Homo sapiens: one gene and its partners. Changing the gene in region 2 together with the main gene of any one other region gives a genetic interaction. Each region holds a gene or a part of one and is shown on either strand. Other genes may lie near its edges. The genes, in order: KRAS, EIF4A3, RIT1 and EGFR.

Region 1 (4,164 bases), on a different chromosome or scaffold from region 2:
CTGCCTTAACAGGAAAAGCTATTAGGAGTCTTTATAGTAATTTATCTAATGTGAAAAGGAAATGGCCTTATAATAGTTTCCATTGCCTTGTAATTTTTTTCCATTTTTTTCTTTTTATAGAAAAAATATAATATTTTGGGGAGAGTGACCATGACTAATAGCAGTGGAAAGGAGACAAAACCTTTGTGAACAGTGTAACTTTACATTCATCAGGGATGACAAACTATAGGACATGATGCCTAGAAGAATCATCATCAGGAAGCCCATAAATTTGTGTTCCCTCAATGTTTCAGTAAAAACCAATTAGAAGGTCTCAACTGAAATTAGTAATTAATCCATTTATGTGACTAGATAAAACACAGAATAGGGATGATTCAAAAGCTTCATTAATTTGTTTCACACCAACATTCACAATTGGTAAGAAAAATAAGAAGTAATCAACTGCATGCACCAAAAGCCCCAAGACAGAAATCTTAGGTATTCAGTTTCTTTTTCACAGGCATTGCTAGTTCAAAAACCAAAACTCTGGGAATACTGGCACTTAGAGGAAAAAAAAACTTCCACTGTCATTTTAAAATAAGCATTTAAGGTAAAAGCTAACAGTCTGCATGGAGCAGGAAAAAAATTAGGTAATGCTAAAACAAATGCTAATAATTTAGTGTAATGTACAAAAATTACCACTTGTACTAGTATGCCTTAAGAAAAAAGTACAAATTGTATTTACATAATTACACACTTTGTCTTTGACTTCTTTTTCTTCTTTTTACCATCTTTGCTCATCTTTTCTTTATGTTTTCGAATTTCTCGAACTAATGTATAGAAGGCATCATCAACACCCTGAAATACATAAAAAGTATTAAAATGTGAATATATACGATGGCTTCATGTGTACAGGTAACAAATTTCATTAATGGAAAAAATATTAAGAAAGGATTCTTTATGTTTCTCTTCAGGCAACTGAATATATATTACATATATTAGGACTTTTAGAATTCTTAAATGTCATCCGCATAGGTGTTTTGTCAATATTATAAACAGGAACACTAATTTTCACAAAAGACAAGGATAACCAATGGCACAGAATTTTAAATAAGGTAACGACTTTTTCACAGGAGAACTTAATTTGCTACTATTTTTTCCACATTGGCAAACCTAAGTCATCAAAATCCAAATGCATGTGTGTGTGTGTACACTTAATTGTCCTTATGTTTCTGGACTTTAGATATAAGCCATGCAACTGTAAACTATGTTCATATATCTTCACACACAGTAACAGTATTTGAGCTCCAGTTCTATACTTACGTAAAATCCATTGGATTTAAAAATTTACCAAGAAGTAAACAGTATTCGAACATCCTATTCCAATAATTTATCAACAAGTAAACAGTATCTAAACATATTATTTCAGTTTTCAAATGATATATATTAAGGGATTAGTTTCAATTCATATATTTATCATTAAGAAAAAGGTTTAAAGTGACCCCAACACAGGAGAATACCACTTTAAAAAAAACACTAATACCTCAGATTTGTGGAGAAATTAGCTAAATCATTTGAAAGGTCTTATAGTTTACCAATTTGGAGGAGATTCTTTCTATCCCATAAAGTTTTAATTTCTGTTGTATTCAAAAGCTTGCCATATAAAGCCAAATATCCTGTCTTCAAAGAGTTTAACAGTTAGTCATTGTGACCACCATCTATTTATGATTAAAGCAAGGTTATTTAAATTTAATGGCTAAAAGCGATTTTAAGCCATAATACTTTTCAACCTAATAATCTACAGTGTGAAAAATGGCACTCTCAAACTGGTAGTAGATTTTAAACCTGCAGTACTTAAATTATGCAAGATCCATACACAAGTCAATTCTTGTCATGTCTCCAATTAAAAGAAAAATATAAATAAAAGCAAAAAATGAAGAAAAAATATGATTCTCTCTGTATTTTAAAGCCTGTTCAACTGAGTAGTAACTATAAAAAGAAAATCTGTTAACCTCACAATACTTCCAAACCTAGACAGCAGAGGGAGTCTTAGAAACAAATACCCAACACATTAAGTTGTATAAATCAAGCCACTTTAGGAACAATGAAAACTGGGTTTTTACTCATTGTAATCACTTTGTAGGATATTATAAACTGTGTAAATAAATGTATTAAAAAAATTATATGTGTAAAAATATTCAAGTGATATTATCTTGAAATTAATTTAAAATGTTAAGTGGGCGGGGTGCGGTGGCTCAAGCCTGTAATCCCAGCACTTTGGGAGGCCAAGACGGGTGGATCACTTGAGGTGAGGAGTTTCAGACCAGCCTGGCCAACATGGTGAAACCCTGTCTCTACTAAAAATACAAAAATTAGCTGGGTGTGGTAGCAGGTGCCTGTAATCCCAGCTACTCAGGAGGCTGAGGCAGGAGAATTGCTGAACCCGGAGAGGCGAAGTGCATTGCAGTGAGCCGAGATAGCACCACTGCACTCCAGACTGGGTGACAGAGCATGACTCTGTCTCAAAGAAAAAAAAACAAAAAATGTTAAGTGGTATTTCTCCTTTACTGTACTACTAAGATTAACGATATTTCAAAATAAATCTGGAGCATGAACAATGAAAATTAGCTACAGTTCATGAATTTTCCTAATAGATCTATAATTCAAGAAAGCGTGACCAATATTTTAAGAGAGGTAAACATAGAATGGGAATAAGAGGCTAGTCCACATTAAGCAAACAGTAGGATAAAAACCAGCATTATTTATTTGAGCACTAGTGAAAGTCTCCAATAAAGTCCCCAAACTGCACTCACTGATGTTTCCCACTCTCTAATATCATTACTGATACTACACAAACATATGCTTTTGTTTCTCCCACAGGAGAAAGGAAAAGTGGTAAGAAATAATTTATCAGCAATACAATACCATCAAGGTTTGATTACATATATGTATGTGTATGTATCCCTTCAGGCTAAACTCTTTAACACATATAGAGGGGAAAATTTCCAATGATACAATAAAAATTATTCTGTAGCTTGCCAGCACTTGACAATTTACTTGACAGTTTAGAATCATAAACCCTTAGAATGTGATAGAATCTTAAAAGAGGATCTAACTCCCTTACCCTGAATGAATAAATTCCCTCTGATCACATCCTTATGTAATCTACTCCATTTCTACTACTTTTACAATGAAGAAAAATGCCAATGGTACTAAAATGGTAAAGCAGAAAACAATGAAAAACCATGTGATGGACACAGAGAAGACACATTTTATGGTGAAAACACAGAATTTGAAAACATTACTTCCTAAGATTCTGACAAAGATTCTAGGCTTATGTTGCAATGAACTCTCCTCTCTACATCATCTTGTTAAAATTAAGTAATTTTGGCCCAGTGCAGTGGCTCACACCTACAGTCACAGCAATTTGGGAGGCTGAGGCAGGAGAACTGCTTGAGGCCAGGAGTTTGAGACCAGCCTGGGCAACACAGCAAGAACCTGTCTCTATTTTAAAAATAAATAAGTAATAAAAAAAAATTAATTAATTTCAATCGTGAAGGAAATGTCACAACCTACACAGAGCAATGAATTCTTTTTTTCTCATATGAGAACTAATCATTCTCACACATACACATAACATTATCTTTTTCAGGACTAAGAAAAGCTAATTTATATATGTTTATCATTGTCAAATTTTTATTTATGTATTTATTTCCTAAAGGTGGGGTCTCATTACGTTGCCCAGTCTGGTCTTAAACTCCTGGCCTCAAGCAGTCCTCGCGCTGTGGACTCCTAAAGTTCTGGCATTATAAGTGTGAGCCACTGTCCCTGTGCCAAAATTTTTTTATTTTTACTTTTTTTAAGAGATGGAGTCTCTTTCTGTTGCCTAGGCTACAGTGCCATGGCACCATCATAGCTCCCTTCAACCTCAAACTCCTGGGGTCAGGCAATCCTCCTGCCTCAGGCTCCCAAGCAGCTGATACTACAGGCACACACACCACAGCCAGCTTGTCAAATAAATTTTTTTTTAAATTGTATTTAATTTTAAATTTTTAATTACCAAGTATACTTCTCTTTTATATGAATTACTTCCACGTGTACTGAAAAACAAGGATTCGTCACATCAAACAATTGTGACATTCACCTACAGTCACTGTATAAAACATAATTTGCACAAATTAGAAA
Region 2 (4,164 bases):
CTAAAAATGAAAAAAAAAAAAAAAAATTAGCCATTCCAGCTACTCGGGAGGCTGAGACACAGGAGTCACTTGAAATCAGGAGGCAGAGGTTGCAGTGAGCCAAGATTGTGCCACTGCACTCCGGCCTGGGTAACGAAGTGAGACTGTCTCAAAAACAAACAAACAAAAAAAGACACACACAGCACATATGTTAAGCTGACCACAAGGTGGGCAAAGAAGGAAGTCTGAATCAAGTTCAAATGAATGAAACCACCCAATCCACGCTTTCTGACCACTGTGGAATTAAACTAATCGAAACGATGAACAGAAAACCCCCCTACTTACTGGAAAAGAAGACACACGCTTGTAACCAAGGTGACCAACCTGGCTAGTTAAGGCTAGTTATCACCTCAACCTAAGTATTACAGGAGCACAGCGGACCCCTCCTTAACTGGAAGGTTTTCTGCTCACCCAGGGCCTCAGCTTTCAGAGCAGAAGCTTGGCATCCCCCCGGGTGTGGGGCCTGCACTTAGGCGGTACATATGAAGTGCTTAGACACAGTCTAGCAAACCCTGACCTGCAGAGCCACAGCATAGCAGACCCACCTGGCGCCCGACCGGAACTCCTTCATGATGGACTCCCGCTCTTTCTGGGGCATGTCTCCATGCATTGAGGATACAGTGAAGTTGGCTTCCCTCATTTTCTCCGTCAGCCAGTCCACCTACAAATCCAATCAACAGATGCTACTGCAAGCTAGTATACCAAAGCAGAGATGTGCATTCGGGACTTTACCGCATCATTTGCAGAACCAGTATCAATATTCGTAAGGTAACTGCTCTTAAAACTCAGAATCATCCTAACTGGATGTAAAAACTTTTTCCCAGAAAATGTTGGGGTGCACTCACAAAACCCTCTTACTTCATTTTCTCCATATAATGACTCTATGGGGGGAGGGGGCCAGGTGTGCTCATTCTCATTTGAAATTTGAATTCCAATCTTGTTAGAATGTAGCCCAACTCCTTTCCTTTCTCAGGAAAGTGGCCGACAGTTCTCAGGTCTGCCTCCACATTACCATCACCTGGGGATCTAAAACTACTCAGGCCTGGGTTCCACCTTCAGCCAACGAAATCTGAATCTTTAGGGGTGGCTGATATCGCTGTTCTGTAAATGAAGTTTTAATGGTCACAGCCACGTCTGACCGTTTGCATATTGTCTACAGCTGCTTTTACAAGAGAACACATACCCTGAAAGCTTAAAATATGGACAAACTGGCCCTTTACTGAAAAATCTTGATTTATGTCATTCAGAGACTCAATCTGCAGTTTCCCTTCAGCACATGGATGCTGTGCAGTGCCTCTTACCTTTCTTTTGGTGTTGCAGAAGATGACCGCCTGAGTGATGGTCAGTGTGTCGTAGAGGTCACACAGAGTGTCAAATTTCCACTCTTCCCTCTCCACTGCCACGAAAAATTGCTTGATGCCTTCCAGAGTCAATTCATCACTGAAGGACAAAGACAAATCCTGTTACATACTCATCCTTCCTTCTAGGACTTGAGGGTGGGCCAAGCCAGGATCCAGGGAGACCCTGGTGGAAAAGGTCACACCGTGATATCTGGTGCAGACCCAGCAGCCCCAGCCCTGTCCTCCATCCTATCACCACTTCCGTCACACAGGCCTCCATTCTGTATCCTACTTAACATTTCACAATGTGCACCACATGGAATACGATTCTAAACGAAACACTGATAAATAAATAGTCACCTAATTTTTAAATTTAGAATTATTGGTTCAAACCACAATGAGGATTATAAAAGATGGGTTGTTTTGTTTTGTTTGAGACAGGGTCTTGCTCTGTTGCCCTGGCTGAAGTACAGTGGCACAATCAAAGCTCACTGCAGCCTCAGCCTCCTGACCTCAAGCGATCCTCCCACCACAGCCTCCTGAGTAGCTGGGACTATAGGCATGTGCCGCCCTACCTGGCTAATTTTTTATTATTGGTAGAGATACGGTCTCTATATGTTGCCCAGCCTATTTGGTTTTTTAAAACAGGAATTTTAAAAGAATTTGCATGCTTTCAATTCCTTTACACTCAGGCAAGAGGATAGCCTGAGGTCCGGGTTTTGACACGAGCTTCAGCAACACAGCCAGACTCTGGCTATAAAAAGTTTTTGAAATTACGACATAAAATCCTTTATAAATGCGGCCCAGTGTTTTAGTAAACTTGACAAGAGGGGCTCCTACCGTTTCACCAAGATGCGGATTGGGTCGGTCATGAACTTGTTGGTCATCTCCAGAATCTCGTGTGGCAGCGTGGCACTGATGAGAACCACCTGTGTGGCTGGAGGCAGGTACCTGTATACATCGTAAATCTGCTCTTTGAAACCTGGGACAGGGAGCAAGACAGGTGAGGGATGTTTAGGGCGGCACACCCAGAAATGGAAGGTGCACGCCCAGTGTTCCCACTGGGTTAGAGGCAGAGTGGTGATAAGGTACGTTTGACAGGAAATCTCATTTTTACAGCACCAGGCCACATCCACGCGTTCTCTCCGTCCCTACTCCCCGCCCACCGGAGTGTTATCTGGTTGAGGGAATCTGGTTTCCCTTTGGTGCTTCTTCAATCTGAAGTGATCTAGGGATCAAGAAACCCACCCCGAGAGTCCTAGATACCAAATAAAAAGCAATAGAGGCTGGCCTGAGTCACCCACAATGAACAAATAAATAAAATCAAGGTAGGAATTTTTTGTTCATAATTGCCAAGGCACAATTGTTTTTCCACGATGAAAACACTATTCACATTCAGAACAGTCACTGGCTGTTTCAATTTTACACTGTGAAAATTTAAGAACTAAGAATTATGTCAGTAGAAGAGTAATTCTTTTGTTGCTCATACCTTTATTCAACATTTCATCAGCTTCATCCAAAACCAACATTTTGATAGCACGTGTCCTTAGGCTTCTGCGACGAATCATATCTATAACATGAGATTTTGAAATACTTACGACAAATCACATCTATGAGATTTTGAAATAATCACACCTGAGGCTCCCAAGAAAGAGCTCATCATTCCACTGGTCTCAGGGTTCCAGAGACCTTCCCTCTACCTCCTGCAAGTGACCCAGGTGCAAAAGTCTACCGTGCGGCCTACCAAATCGAAAGCTGTCCTGTACCATTTAAGCACTTCTTACAAATACTACCGGCAGCACCATTTTTAGCGACAAAAGTGCTTACCAAAAACACGCCCTGGAGTGCCCGCGACAACATGCTGTCCGTAATCCAGCTTCCTGATGTCCTCGCCAACATTGGTGCCTCCAATGCAGGCATGGCACTGGACATTCATGTAGTCACCGAGAGCAAGCAGCCCCTGAAACAAAGCACAGGTTCACGTCCAGGGTGGGAGAGAGAAACATCCACGTTTTCCAAAAAGAAAGACTGTTTCTCCTCCGAGATGATCACCGATTATTATTTATGCCATTATTATCTCGAAACCACAAAATTCTCCTGCTCTTTTCTCTGACAAAAACAAGTTAATTTTGCTTTTTTTTTTTTTTTTTTGAGACGGAGTCTCACTCTGTGGCCCATGCTGGGGGGCAGCAGCGCAATCTTAGCTCACTGCAAGCTCCGCCTCCAGGGTTCACGCCATTCTCCCGCCTCAGCTTCCTGAGTAGCTGGGACTACAGGCGCCCGCCACCACACCAGGCTAATTTTGTTTTTGTATTTTTAGTAGAGATGGGGTTTCACCGTGTTAGCACACCGTGCTGTGTGCACCCTATATGTGTATTCAGAGAGTCGTTATCTCCTGACCTCGTAATTGGCCTGCCTCAGCCTCTCAAAGTGCTGGGATTACAGGCGTGAGCCACCACACCCGGCCTGCTGGTTTCTTATTACAAAAGCTATATCATTAACAGAAAAGAATATATAAAATTCATAATCCCATCCACCGAAGAAACCAGCATTAACATCTTAATATACATCTTTTTAAACATACATCTTTATACTACGTTAAGTATAAAATGGGTACAATTTATTTTTTTTTTGAGACAGAGTTTCACTCTTCTTGCCCAGACTAGAGTACAACGGCACAATCTCAGCTCACTGCAACCTCTGCCTCCCGGGTTCAAGTGATTCTCCTGCTCAGCCACCCAAGTAGCTGGGATTACAGGCGCCTGCCACCACGCCCAGCTAATTT
Region 3 (4,042 bases), on a different chromosome or scaffold from region 2:
ATACAAAAAATTAGCCAGGTGTGGTGGCGGGCGCCTGTAGTCCCAGCTACTTGGGAGGTTGAGGCAGGAGAATGGCGTGAACCCAGGAGGCGGAGCTTGCCGTGAGCCGAAATCGCGCCACTGTACTCCAGCCTGGGCGACAGAGCGAGATTCTGTCTCAAAAAAAAAAAAAAAAAAAAAATCATTCTTTCACTTTTCATTTAGTGTATTTACTTATAACAACTTTAAGTAACCCTTGATCAGGTAGCAAATGTGCTGTCATTTTCCATATGTGTTTTTCCTGTCTCCTCCCAAGAGGTAATCTCTTCAAATGAAGGGGGATTCCATGGCATGCTCCCTAGCACTTGACATGGGTGTCTTGTTCATGGTGGGCACTCAAATTTTTTGAATTCATATTTTCCAGAATATCACATCTCATGGTTATGTTTTTCTGAAAACAACTCTTTTGCAATGATTCCAAAAACTCTACCCACTGATAGGGAAGCAAAGGAAAGCCCAAGTTGTTTAAAAGTTTTGTATTATGTCATACAAACTGTCTTCACATACAAGTGCATTAAAAAAATTATCCCCCCCTCCTCCTCCCCAAACATCACAGTAGACCAATTCTTGCTAATATATGACAAAGTTAAAACATATGTCCCCTCTGAATTCTAAACAGCTAATTCTAGACACTAACATCTGGATCTTATAATTTACCGGTCTGGTATGGACATGAACAGTTCCAGTGCCTTTCAACTTATCCCTGAATTTTTCTCTTCTCAAAGTTCTAGGCAGTAATTTTAATGCCCTCAAATTAGATAAAGCTGATTACTTAGAGCTTATAAATTAGCTACACTTTATGACACTAAGAATAGAGCTATGACTTATGCATATCATACCTGTCAAGCTACCTAGCACCACGAATAGAACTAATATTAATGGATGGACTAATACAAGGATCTAATATATGACAGTGATAGTCTTAAAAACACCGATTTGTTATTTTCCTTATATATAATCCAAATTCCTTTCTATCCTTCTGGCAATGTTTCTACTGCCTGACTACCTTAAATAACTATATAGTGTCAATTTCTTGCTTGGGCCAGGTGGTGGCTCATGCCTGTAATCCCAGCATATTGGGAGGATTGCTTGAGCCTAGGAGTTCGAGATCAGCCTGGGCAACATAGTGAAACCTCATCTCTATTTAAAAAAAAAAAAAAAAAAAAAAAAAAATATATATATATATATATATATATATCTCTTAATGTTAATAACAATTCCCTAGGTCACTAGTAATAAGAAGCTATGGGCTTTAAACTTAAAAGGTGCTAAACCAGTTTAAATGTAAAACATTCTCATAATAGAATTGCACTGTATTTCTTTTCTACTTTGATGCTTTTCCAAAGTGCTATAGTTCCTGTGAGATTTGTGTCCTGCACAGAATCAAATGCTAGGTCTTTCACTTTTGGATGGCTGAGTACCATAAAACATGATTTATTTGGTAACAAAAATGTTTCCAGGAGTTTAAAAAGGGACCACTACTCAGAGCTAAAAAAGTTCTAACAGTCACTTTTTAAAAAAGCTAGTTTATCATTTGTTTATAAAGAAAAACACAACTCTGTCCTACTTCCTCTAATAAAAATGGAAAATATTAAGATGAGCTGTGTGCTTATAAAGAGGTGCTACACAAGTCATCTTACGTTTCTAGTCAACACAAACATTGCTTCAGTGACACTTAATATTCAATACATGATGCATTACTCTTAGCATTTTTGCATTTACTCTCCGCATATAACAAGGTCAGATATCAAAACAGTCCTGATCTTAGACAACTCACTACCAATATTTAAAGCTGTTTCCTCCTAGGACTACAGTTCCTAAACTATGCACAGGGAGCAAAGTGGTATTCCCTTAGGATAAACTTGGTCAAGGCTCAGATAACCCTGAGATGAACTTAGCAAAGTCCTTGTAAAGAAATCTTCAGATGGGAAACTCCACCTATGTGAATTTTAAAGCTTTAAGACTGACCCATTCAACAGAAATAGCAGATTTTCTCAGAGCACTGAGTCTAGTGATTGTCCACGTCAAGGAGGCACACACACAATTTTACCCACACCCCTGATGTCTCTTCTGTATGGAAAATGCAATCAGTGATGAAGGGCCGAAAAAACATCTTGCCAGCTGTAGCTCTTTTACAGAGCACAAAGTGGGAGGAAGCAATGAATATAAATGTGTTGGTGTGTGCGTCTGTGGGGAAAAAATAAACCTGTACAAGGCAATGGCTGATCCAACTATGAATTTTGATTAAACACGTTTAGTAATACAGTTATGATTCCCAAAATGTCTACCTTTGAAGGTAAAAAAAAAAAGAAAACCCTGAAATGAAGAGTAAAATAAGGTTCCCAGGAGAAACCTTCATCACATTTTATGCTTCTGGCTGTTCTCACTTATCCCGGTGAATTTGGGCCAAATGTGTACTTCTTAGAAAAGCGAAGCTTGTACTGAGAATACTGTTCTGAACCTACCTTTTTAAGTCCCTGCAAACATATAGCCCAACTTTCCCAAATCTCACCACTCCATAGTCTGCAACAGGTGTCAGCCTCACAGGTATCTGCTGAAATTTGGCACTGATCTCATTAGCCCCAATTTCCCTACATGATTTTTGTTCTGTCTCTAGGAAGCATAGTGTGAATAGAAGAGACTGAGGTCTTTCTCTGGGATAGTCCCAGGAAATTGAAATTAAAGGATAATGTGGAGTGCAGAGCCAAAAACTTCCCTTGTGAACTTAGTCAAACACACATGGTATACATATTCTCCTGGGTATAAACAAATTTACATTAATTAATAGCGCAACAGAACCCAAAACATTGGTAGAACAAATTCTAATGTGACAATTTAAAAGCAGACAGTGCTCCACTGGGTTAATAAATCATACTTAACTAAGAGACAATACTTTAAATACCACATCATTAAAAACTCCTAGTAGGCATGTCCCTCTTATCAGTTAAGTGAAAGAGCAAGCACCATACTCAGTACTGCAGGTTACTGGACTGCTTTGATACAGCACTGCAGTTCACAGATAAACACTTCACATCTTCTCTTCAAGTTACTGAATCTTTCTTCTTCCGGAATGGTGATTTTAGCCTCTTCCATACACTGTTTTTGGGCTTAGATTTTTTCTCCATGGCCAGTACTGCCTCCTTTTCTTTCCTACGTATCTCCCGTACAAGGGCATGGAAAACATCATCAATATAGTAGCGGTATGCAGCAGATGTCTCAAAAAAGGGACAGCTGAATTCTCGGGCCAAGGCCAATCCTTCTTCCTTGGTGACCTTTAAGGGCAAAATGTGAGAAAAGATAACAGTGAAAAACAATTAAATTGTCCAAAAACCTGAATGCACCACCACCTTAACACAAAGAAAGCTTCTCAATTCTGGAGGTGTTCAAGCATACAGCACTAATTTTTGTAATTTTAGGCTAGATTACTTCTAAGGTTTCTTATTCTGCCTTCAAATGATATGATTCTATTTCTAGTCTACTTTTTTTTTTGAGACAGAGTTGCGTTCTTGTTGCCCAGATTGGAGTGCAATGGCATGATTGTGGCTCACAACCTCGGCCTCCCGGGTTCAAGTGATTCTCCTGCCTCAGCCTCCTGAGTAGCTGAGATTACAGGCATGCGCCACCACACCTGGCTAATTTTGTATTTTTAGTAGAGACGGGGTTTCTCCATGTTGGTCAGGCTGGTTGTAAACTCCTGACCTCAGGTGATCTGCCCACCTCGGCCTCCCAAAGTACTGGGATTACAGGCGTCGGCCACTGTGCCCGGTCTCTAGTCTATTTTTAAGATACTTTTTGGAACAGGGAATAGTTTTAGATATCAAATACACAATCTTAATTTTCCCCATACTTTTTATTTTAAGAAAGATAAATAGGCTGGGCTTGGTGGCTCACACCTGTAATTCCAGAACTTTGGGAGGCTAAGGTAGGAGGATTGCTTGAGCCCAGGAACTTGAGACCAAGCTGGGCAATATGGTGAGACCCTACTTTTACAAAATTTTTAAAA
Region 4 (3,500 bases), on a different chromosome or scaffold from region 2:
GACCCTCCTGCCCTTCCTCTTCTCCTCCCTTCCCTTCCCTTCCCTGCAGTCCCATTGACTTCCCAGCCTTTGTGATTGCATTCAGTATCTATCCAGGCTTCCAAGTGAGAAGCCTGGGTGTCAATCTGGGATTCTTTCTTTCTTATGCTGCTACATATACTTATCAACCAGTTCTGCCTCCTGATCAGCCCCGGAGTCCCCTGTCCTGAATCTTCCTTGCTCCTGCTTCATCCTCTGTCTCTGGCAATAGTCATGAACCTTCCTGTTTCCAATGCCACTCCTGCAGTCCATTCCCCAAACCGCTGCTGCAGCCATCTTTCTAAAACACCAAACACAGCATGTCAGTTCACAGTCACTTCTCTTTCACACAGGACAAAATCCAAAGCCACAGTGAGGATGGAGCTCTCTGTGAACTGTAGGTAGCCTTACCATTTATTCCTTCTCTTCCTGCCATTTGAATTACTAGCACTCTCAAGAACTTTGCTGCTATTGGCACTGCTTGTGTAATGCCCTGCACATCCTATTCTCTGGGGAAATAATCATATAACCAAATAGCTCAAATGAGTAATCCCTTCCATTTGTGGCTAAACGTGCTCTCCTCCCCATGTAGAATTAAAGGCAAAGACTGAACTCAAAAGTCATCCTTTGTCCTGGGAAGAGTTCCGTCATTGATTCTGTGACATTGTTTCACACTTATTATCTCTAGCTCTCTTTCCCCAGTTGACTTCCAGACACTTAAGGGCAATTACCAAGTCTAATTTATTCTTACATCTCAACATATGGATGCAACAGTGTAAATCACTCATCATGGCTCAAACATAAAGAAAAAAAAGCCTAAGTTGTAACAGGTACCAATACTTGCCCTTCTATGCAAAGGGCAAACAATCATGGTTGACTTACGTAATTATTTAAACTAAGTCAGGGCCATGTGTGCTGCCGCGCTAGTAATGGTGTAATTGCAGGTGTACTTAGGGCTGCCTGCAAGGCATTCTCATTGGGTGCCTTGTCCCCTAAATTATAACTTGAGTCTTTTGTTAATGAGAAGTTCCAGATATATTCAGAAAGGACACTTGGACTCCGAGTCTCTCCTTGAAAACCCACCAGAATGAGATAAAACTTGGATCAGAGAGAGAAATTCTACTCCCCCATGTTAGTGTTTCCATACTGCTTGCTAAAGCAAGCTGCTGAAACTGGTAGGAGTAAAATTTACTCTAAGCATATGCAATTCACAGATGCTCAGTCCACAGGACCAGTCATTTGATACTGAACTTCAGGGCCTTCAGGGATTGAAATGTCAAATCTAGCACTTACTTTCTAGGGGCTCAGTAAACACACCCCCAATATTCCTGGCCCCAACTACCCCTCCTGCTCCCAGCTGGCTCAGGGAACTTTCTAGACAACTGGATTGAGTGTATCTATCTAAATGTGTAGCAAGAAAGCTTTATCAGATGACTCTGAAAAAGTGAAAATTACAGGCAAACTAGTTATTTGAATAAGTTCCAATGCCTGGATTCTTGCCCAAATTCAAACTGGCCAGCTTGTGCCTATGGGCCCAATGGAGGACAATCTAGAGATGTCGTCCAAAGAGCCAACTGCTGGAATTTTCTTAGAAAATTCATTCCTGTAGGAGGAAAACGAAAAAGAACGAATGAGAAAACACTATGATGTTTAATGGGGATGGCCTACAGGAACAAGTTAAGATTTACACTCTATTCTCTATGGATTAGTGGTTCAAGAATAAACCAGTAATAATTAACTGAGACTAACAATGTTTATTACCATAATTTCAAATGTCCATAAGTGATAAAGGAAAACAAAAATGGAATGGATCTGAGGAACAGAATCTGTTTTTTTTTTTTTTTTTTTGAGATGGAGTCTCACACTGTCGCGCGGGCTGGAGTGCAATGGTGCGATCTTGGCTCACTGCAACCTCTGCCTCCTGGGTTCAAGCAATTCTCCTGCCTCAGCCTCCTGAGTAGCTGGGATTACAGGCACCTGCCACCACGCCCAGCTAATTTTTTTTGTATTTTTAGTAGAGACTGGGTTTCACCGTGTTGGTCAGCCTGGTCTCAAACTCCTGGCTTCATGATTCGCCTGCCTCGGCCTCCCAACGTTTTGGGATTATAGAGGTGAGCCACCATGCCCGGCCCAGAATCTGGTTTTAAAAATTATATTTACAGGGAAGCAACATGTGGGTGAACCATATTCTAAAACTTTGAAATTTTCTCAACACATACCCCTATTAGTAAAACCCAATGTTAAATAAGCTCATAACTAGAGTACTTATGAAGTCAAAATTAAAACACGCACACACAGACACACAGGCACACACACAAGTCACATGGCAAGGGCCACACTGTGTTGCAGGTGGGTTCTGCAACAGGCGAAATGTCCTCAACATTGTGACCCATCCCTATTCCGGGGCACCAGCCTGGGGTTACCTTCCCTTCAGTGCCCATAATCATCAATTGCCTTTAATATTAGAGTTGGTTTGTCACTCTCGTCAAAAAAGTTTCAGATGCTAGCTGCTAGTCTTAGAGCTTAGATCAAAGAAAAAACAAAGAATATTTTCTTTTCAAACAGGGAGGAATCCTTCATCTTTGCTGAGACTACTTCTAAAAACATTTCAGAACATGTTAGTGCTGTCACGTGGACCAAGTGTAATTATGCAGCACAATGGACTTTCGGCAATCGGTGTCTTCAAACCAGAAGTTTTTGAAAAATCATGAGTTATGAAACTAAATACGTGAAGCCAGAAATTACTGTTAAAAGCCTATTGGAGCTCTCAGCCAGTTTCTTGTATTCTGTGCTACGGCAGTGTGGGTCTAACACACAAACCACTGGTGTCCTTTCCAGATTTGAAAGCAATCTGGAAGCAAGAGCAGAAACCCTTAAAACTCACCCCCCCTTCAACCTTTAGCCCAGAATATCTAGCATATTCTATGCACTCAGTAAATATTCACTGAATTCAGAAACAACAGCTCAGAAGCCTGAAGGGTCAAAGTGACTTGTCCACCTTCACCCTGGGCTGGAGTGAGAAGAAAGGTCCCAATTGCCAGGCCGGGCTTGGGCTTTCTTGATCTGACCTCCTTTGAGGAGGGAGGGTGGGGTAGATCTCACTTTGGATACCATTAATATCCCCACTTTGGTTTCTCTTTAAGACAGCTCGGACCTACTGAATGGGAACGTCTCCAGAAGTGGGGCTGGGCGGGCTTATTTCCACAAAGCTCCCTCAGTTGGGAATTCGACTCGCCTTGGAATACTTTCCAGTGTCCCTTCTGGAGAGCACCTTCATCCTGTAAGAGGCAGGGCTTTGCTCAGCACCCCTCAAGCAGTCTCCACTCCATGCTCACTGAACTGAGGACTAAGCTGCCTCTATGGAAGGTGACCCAACAGAGGGCTGAGGAACTCGGCAGGAATGCAGACTGCCGGACAGCCCGCGTTGAAGCTTCAGACAGGCTCATCGTCATGAGCCGGCTCCCTGGGCCCTTTCCCCTTGC

The links.
Region 1: changes in EIF4A3 (region 2) and KRAS are lethal when combined (synthetic lethality), as found in Homo sapiens cells (3 studies listed by BioGRID, with this or other methods).
Region 3: changes in EIF4A3 (region 2) and RIT1 together harm fitness more than expected from each alone (negative genetic interaction), as found in Homo sapiens cells (one large-scale study listed by BioGRID).
Region 4: changes in EIF4A3 (region 2) and EGFR together harm fitness more than expected from each alone (negative genetic interaction), as found in Homo sapiens cells (one large-scale study listed by BioGRID).

Annotation. Positions count from the first base shown.
Region 1 is NC_000012.12:25,209,075-25,213,238, forward strand, and holds part of KRAS (GTPase KRas), read right to left. Parts: intron 3,105-4,164; coding exon of another isoform or gene 3,104-3,104; intron 838-3,103; coding exon 721-837; 3' UTR 1-720. UniProt on the Homo sapiens protein: Ras proteins bind GDP/GTP and possess intrinsic GTPase activity. Plays an important role in the regulation of cell proliferation.
Region 2 is NC_000017.11:80,136,802-80,140,965, forward strand, and holds part of EIF4A3 (eukaryotic initiation factor 4A-III), read right to left. Parts: intron 3,340-4,164; coding exon 3,207-3,339; intron 2,950-3,206; coding exon 2,869-2,949; intron 2,362-2,868; coding exon 2,220-2,361; intron 1,480-2,219; coding exon 1,341-1,479; intron 701-1,340; coding exon 585-700; intron 1-584. UniProt on the Homo sapiens protein: ATP-dependent RNA helicase. Involved in pre-mRNA splicing as component of the spliceosome. Core component of the splicing-dependent multiprotein exon junction complex (EJC) deposited at splice junctions on mRNAs.
Region 3 is NC_000001.11:155,897,308-155,901,349, forward strand, and holds the end of RIT1 (GTP-binding protein Rit1), read right to left. Parts: intron 3,312-4,042; coding exon 3,081-3,311; 3' UTR 501-3,080; downstream 1-500.
Region 4 is NC_000007.14:55,022,017-55,025,516, reverse strand, and holds part of EGFR (epidermal growth factor receptor isoform a precursor), read right to left. Parts: intron 1-3,500. UniProt on the Homo sapiens protein: Receptor tyrosine kinase binding ligands of the EGF family and activating several signaling cascades to convert extracellular cues into appropriate cellular responses.